Linked DNA regions of Homo sapiens. The protein of the gene in region 1 purifies or fractionates together with the protein of each later gene. This does not show direct contact. Each region holds a gene or a part of one and is shown on either strand. Other genes may lie near its edges.

Region 1 (3,649 bases):
CAGAGGCAGACATAGGCCAGATCATGAAGGGGAGGGGTTCATGTGTCACACTAAGAAACTTACATACTCATCTATACACAGGGGAAACCATGAAGAACTTTAGAGAAATCACATGATCAGACATGAATTTTAGTAAGCCAACACTAGCAGCAGTGTGAAAGCCAGATAAGAAGGGTAAGAGACTGAAGGACTACAGATAGAGAAGCTGGAGATGAGACTAGACGTCTGAACAATTCTAAACGTAAGATAGGGCATAACTGAATTAAGAGTGATATGATATATATTGGTTTTCATCCATGGTTCCTGGTTTATAAGTCCCACAGCTCTTATTACATTCTTTTTTAATATTAAATTTAATTTTATATAAGTAGAGACAGGATTTCACTATGTTGGCCAGGCTGGTCTCGAACTCCTGGCCTCAAGTGATCCGCCCACATCGGCCTTCCAAAGTGATGGGATTACAGAGGTAAGCCACTGTGCCTGGCCTTACTACAGTCTTTTGTATAATGTTGGGGCACATTAAACCTCAGAAAACAGAATCTCTTCTCTTGCTGACCTTTTCCTGCCCTCCTTTCCACCAACCCAAGGCAGAACTCTAATCTTCCACAGCCTGTCTGACTGTGGGTCATAAGACCTTCCCTTTAGAAGGGAGCTTGCCCCAGACCCTGGAAGAAGGAATGCTGCAGACAGGCAGAAGAAGTTGGACAGGCAGGCCTTGCTGGGTTTCCCCACTGGGTCTATTAGTGCTGTTAGGTCATACTCTTTTTGTCCAATCACATTTCTACACAGTTGTTGACTGTGCCTATGTAATGAAGCCTCCATAAAAACCCAAAAGGAGTGGATTCAGAGAGCTTCTGGATAGCTGAACATTGGAGGCTCCTGGAAGGTGGCGCACCATGGGAAGGCATGGAAGCTCCATGCTCTTTCCCCTATCTCCCCCTATGCATCTGTTCATCTGTATCCTTTGAACATCCTTTATAATAAACCGGTAAGTGTTTCTCTGAGTTCTGTGAGCTGCTCTAGCACATTAATTGAACCCAAGGACGTAAGGAGTGGGGGGGTCATGGGATCCCTGATTTATAGCCAGTGTTATCAGAAGCACAGGCAAAATCAAAATAACCTGGGGCTTGCGATTAGCACTGGAAGTGGGGGAAGTCTTTTGGGAACTGCCCTCAACCAGTGGTGTCTGACACTACCTCCAGGTACACCGTATTGGAACCGGGGGGCACCCAGTTGGTATCTGCTGCAGAACTAACTGGTTGGTTGCTGTGGGGGGAGAAACCCCCAAGCATCTGGTCACAGAAGTCTTCTGTGTTAATTATTGTTGTGTTGAGTGAGAGAATTAAAAAATACTTTGGCTGTGATTTTACCCTGCTCACTAAGACACATCAATATTGAGAAGCAGAGAGAGTTTGAAGAAATATTTAAGAGGACCTGGTAATTAATAAGATATAGGGAATGGTAAAGAAGAATCTAAGATATCCACTAAGGTTCCAACTTGATTAACTGAAAACAGTTGGCAGAAACAAATTTCAGTCTCCTGCAACTCACAGAACTCAAGACCAGCGTGTTCTTTCCAACTTTAGGATTATATGTCGAGGCTTTAGTTTCTATTCCAGGTCAGACTATAAAGAAGGTTACCTCCATTACACTGACCTGAGCCCCAAAACTGCAAACACTAAGCAATATGCCACCAGAATTTGGGGAGGGGAGCAAAAATAGGAAAACCATGGAAATGGGTGGCGAAAGGATCCACAGCCTGAGATATGCACACTAATTTTTCATGGTTCCCAACAAAGTTTTGTCTCTCCCATAAAGGAGACTGACTGGGTACAGCTGAGGACCACATCTAATTCCCAAAGGTGTGTCAGTCAACTCTCTGTTAAGCTAAAAAGAAAAGTGGATATAAACTGGGTGAAAGAAGAAAAAGATTGTCAATGTCAGCAACTAGAGAGATGGAACAAAAGTCTCAAGAGCAACGATGGCAGAGAGGTGAAAATCTGAGCTAGCCATTTGTATGTAAGGAGCATTTTCATATAAATATTGTAAAAACTGTGCTAAGTACTAGTCACAGATTGAAACGTGAAAAGAGGCCAGGTGCAGTGGCTCACACCTGTAATTCCAGCACTTTGGGAGGCCGAAGTGGGCAGATCACCTGGGTCAGGAGTTCAAGACCAGCCTGGCCAACATGGGGAAACCCCGTCTCTAATAAAAGCACAAAAATTAGCCGGGCATGGTGGCGGGCACCTGTAATCCCAGCTACTCAGGAGGCTGAGGCAGAAGAATAGCTTGAACCCAGGAGGCAGAGACTGAGGATAGCTGAGATCGCGCCACTGCACTCCAGCCTGGGCAACAAGAGCAAGACTGAGCCTCAAACAAAAGAAAAAAAAATGTGAAAAGGAATTTCAACATAACTTATTCATTTACTAACATTTATAGAATAGCTAACAATGTACCAGAAATTATAATAAATATGAACACAGTTTTTATTGTATTAATGCCATTATATTTGTATAGGCCCTACAGCTTTCAGTAGACTTCAGCATAAATTACATTATACATTTTCCTCAAGAGGGATGCTGTAATAGCTTTCTAAAAATTAGTATGTATTCCAGCCCAGTGCAGTGGCTCATGCCTGTAATCCCAACACTTTGGGATGCCGAGGTGGGCAGATCACATGAGGTCAGGAGTTTGAGACCAGTCTGGCCAACAGGGTGAAACCCTGTCCCTACTAAAAATACAAAAATTGGCTCGGCACGGTGGCTCATGCCTGTAATCCCAGCACTTTGGGTGGCCGAGGCGGGTCGATCACCTCAGGTCAGGAGTTCAAGACCAGCCTGGCCAACATGGTAAAACCTTGTCTCTGCTAAAAAGACAAAAATTAGCCAGGAGTGGTGGCGCGTGCCTGTAATCCCAGCTACTCCAGAGGCTGAGGCATGAGAATCGCTTGAACCCAGGAGGCAGAGGTTGCAGTGAGCAGAGATTGCACCACTACACTCCAGCTGGGGTAACAGAACAAGAGTCTATCTCAAAAAAAAAGTCACTACTATACCATAGGAATTAGTGTGGTCTACTGATTACATTAGCACTGGGCAAGGTTCAGTTTAAATCAAGTTCTCAGAGTACCCAAAGTAAAATCAACATATCTAATCCTTGCTATACTGACCTAATTTTAAACTGATTTTATAGGATTACTTTTCTTTCTTCCAATACAGTGATTCATCTTCTGCATTTAAGGTCGATATTAGAGATATCTAAAAGGATCTATGATGAATGGATAAAGAAAATGTAATATATATACAGAATGGAATACCATACAGCCTTTAAAAGGAAGAAAATTATGTCATTTTCAAAAACGTAGATTAACCCGGAGGACATAATGCTAAGTGAAATAAATAAGACACAAAAAAACAAATACTGCATGATCTCACATATGTGTAAAATCTAAAAAAAAAAGTCAAACTCAGGGAGGCAGAGAGCAGAATGGTGGTCTACAAAGGCTAGGGAGAAGGGGGAAAAAGGAAAGGAGAGAGGTTAGTCAAAGAATACCAAGTTTCAGTTAGAGGAGTAAGTTTTAGAGATCTATTGCATGCCACGGTGACTATAATTAATAATAATGTACTATATACCTCAAAATTGCTAAAAGTTA
Region 2 (3,219 bases), on another chromosome or scaffold:
AAAAGGAATAATGCTGTGAGTTTTATCAAGTAACAAAGTTCATGACAAACTCCTCTCATAATCAAACACGAAGATTTAAGAAGCAGGGAGAATGTAAGTCAAAGGGTAACCCCTCCCTCAAACTAATGTTTGAAAACTTTCCAAAAGCATCAGAGATGAACTCCAAACTTTTAACACTTAAGTCCACTTAAACTAGAAAGTGAATACAGCCAACAGATCTCAATCAAATCAATCATTTCCATTATTATTCAGCAACTGCTGTTATTGTAACTGATTTGGGGTAGGGGACATTTTTAATTCACTATGTCCTGAATCTAATGCATGAGACCCTTGAGATCTTTCTGTCTCTGCCTTCAATAAATTAAGAGCAAATTTATTTACTTCAAATAGGAAAACTGATCACTTATCAAAGGCTTTATATATTCTTTACGGATTTAGACATCACCATACCAAGAAGCCTACTCCATCTATTCCGGTCTTTGTAGGACAGGCTTCATTTTTCAGCCCATGTTCTGTAAGCCACACAGTATGCCTGCAGAAGCTGCTTATCGGAGCCAAATATAATTGTCAGTACAATTTAAAGACCACTATGTGTCCCCGGAGACCAACCTGTTTATTTCCCTGAAAGACCGCAACACCCCACACAACATGTTTCAGACATTTGGACCTTGTTAGATAAGACACTTGTAGGAGAAAGAGATTTCTTAAATTAAGTAGCTTATATACCCCTAGAGAAGGCCATACAAATCTGTAGCACAGTGTTAGCAAAGTGAAACAGTTGCAATCTAGGAGAAAATGCAGCAATTCTAGAAATACTTTCCTACTTACTTTGCCATTGTTAATCACTCTGAATGCTGAAAACATAATTAGAGAAAAACAGGGTTATATAGATACACAGCATACAAAAGACCATGCAGTTCTAAACGAGAGAAGGTAAAACTTTACCAAAAGTCAAGTAAGCTACCACCAAGAAAGGTTCAGAAAAATAAGAGCAGCGAGAAAAGCAAGCATACCATAGAAATCCGGAATTAAATTCTGCCTGGTATCTCCAGCCCCATTAGGTCTAAAATAAAATGTGCTCGAAAGAAGAAAAAAGGTTTCAGAATTTCAGTGTGGAGAAAACAGGAAAAGGAGAAGTTCCCTGCAGAGAAAGAAATGCGCTAACCCTCCCTCTTTGGGGGCCAGGGTTGGGAACTAAAGGTACTCCCACCTGCATTCCAATTCTGGCTAAATAGGGGAGTCCTTGGCTGCTACAGCAGGCCTCTCCTGACGGCCTGGCAGGGTTAAGAAGGGCGGCAAGGGCACCCACCCTGCAGTGAGTTCCCCGTGTTCCTTGAAACGGAGCGGGGCAGGGCCCCTGAGGGGTGTCTTACTTTGCAGCCATACTGCAGCGCCAGCTTGTTGAGGCTGTCCTCCTGGGCCAGCTCCCGCTGCAGCAGCACCACGTCACCTGCTCCCGCCTGGGGAGGCTGGTGGACACCGCTCTTGTGGCGCTCCTTGCCCCGGGGCCGCAAAACCACACGGTGAGACTCTTCTTCAGAAGAGTCCCCCGAGTCCCCACTGCCATTCTTAAACATGTATACGTGGCTGGTCGGAGTCCCACACACAACAGCTGGGCCTTGGAAGGTCTTGGTTAACAATTCCTCGTGCCTCATTTTCTTCACTGAAAATCAAGCCGGAGGGTTAATTCCACAGAAGACATAATCATCCCTCCACCGCCTCGTTTAAAGAGAAGTGTCTTGTTAGAGAGTATTCCTTTTCCTAATCGCTGCAAATACTCAGCATACATCATCAACAGAAAAAAAAGAATGTGCTTATGCTGGCTGAGATGGAAGAAGATAGGCAGAATAAAAACCCTTTGTTTTTTCTAATCGCATACGTTTTGTGCAGAAAACGAACCCCGCCCCTGTTCCTCATCCATAGCTGTCTCCCCTAAACCCACATCTGTAAAGAAACAACTACTTTTGCTCTCAGAGTAGTAAGTTGAGATCCTTGCAATGGCAAGTAAGGGCTGCCGCCAGCCTCCGCGCACTCAGAATCTTCAACTCAGAAGCTTTGCACAATAATTTTGTATTCAATATTTTACACATTGCAAAGTATCTTCACTAAGAAGGTCAGCGCTAAGGACTCTTGCTCAGAACTGTGGGGCTAAACTGCTCTTACTTTGACACAGTTTAACTCACAGTATGTGGGGCAAGCTACGGGGAGAACTCATGCCTGTCAGCCGGAGAAAAGCGTCCAGTTTGCTCACGGGTCACTTTGCATTCATTACATCCCCATTGTCTGGTTTTTATTTTCCCCTTGAGTCAACAGCCAAAGCCGCAAGACCCCTGTTCCTCTCTCCAGATTGTTCGCGTGAGATTCCAGAAACGAAATCTCAAACACGCGGGCTGACAACTTCAGAAAAAGGTGGCTTCGGAGCCACAGGGGAGCAGCCCGTACGGGGACAGCCTGCGGCCCCAGCTCGACCCCCTACTCCCCGCCCACGCCTTCGAGGGTCACAGGCCCACACCCCGCTCCGCGCGCTCCTGAGCCTGCCCGGAGGCGGGAGGCGGCCGGCGGTCCTCGGGGGGTTGAGGGTCACCTGCAGGACCACGGCGGCAGCCCGGGGACGGGGCCAGCCTTCGCGTCCGAGCTCAGGGGCGGCGGCAGCAGCTCCAGGCCCGCTTCCCTCCAAGTCCCTTCTGCGAAAAGATGGGGCACCTCAACAAGAGCTGACAGGAAAATGGGGAGCGGCCCGGCCCCAGGGCTCCACGGCTCCACGGGCGGGGCCCTAACATTCCAGAGGGCAGAACCTCTGACCTCTGACCCCCAACCCTAGCCACCTGGGGCCAGCCCACGACAGTCGCGGTCACCGCCCCTCCAGCTGGAGCGTCCCCCTAGGAGCCCGGGGAGGGGCGGCCCGCCCGCGAACCCTCGAGCGAGGCCAGGTCGCCGTACCGCCATGAGCCCGCGCGGCTCCCTAGCCAGACCGCGGCCCCCTCGTCCAGGCCCCGGTACCTCAGCGCCCAGGCTCCGCCGCGACCGGCGACCGGCGACTCGCGACCCGCGACCCGCGACCCGCAGCTGCCACCGCGCCTGCGGATTGGCTACGAACATCAGCAGGGCCCCCCTGGGGGCGGGACTGGGGAGGCAGCCAATGAAGTCAGCGCTGGGCGGGCACTGGAGCGAGCCTGGCTGCGCGGAGAGCTCATCCCGGGACCACAGGGCCCGGGGCGG

What was found.
Region 2: the proteins of CLCN3 (region 1) and LYSMD4 fractionate together in Homo sapiens (co-fractionation; one large-scale study listed by BioGRID). This does not show direct contact.

What each region holds. Positions count from the first base shown.
Region 1 is NC_000004.12:169,623,533-169,627,181, reverse strand, and holds part of CLCN3 (H(+)/Cl(-) exchange transporter 3), read right to left. Parts: intron 1-3,649.
Region 2 is NC_000015.10:99,730,345-99,733,563, forward strand, and holds the start of LYSMD4 (lysM and putative peptidoglycan-binding domain-containing protein 4), read right to left. Parts: upstream 1,664-3,219; 5' UTR 1,656-1,663; coding exon 1,374-1,655; exon of another isoform or gene 1,079-1,373; coding exon of another isoform or gene 1,014-1,078; exon of another isoform or gene 865-1,013; coding exon of another isoform or gene 829-864; exon of another isoform or gene 451-828; intron 1-450.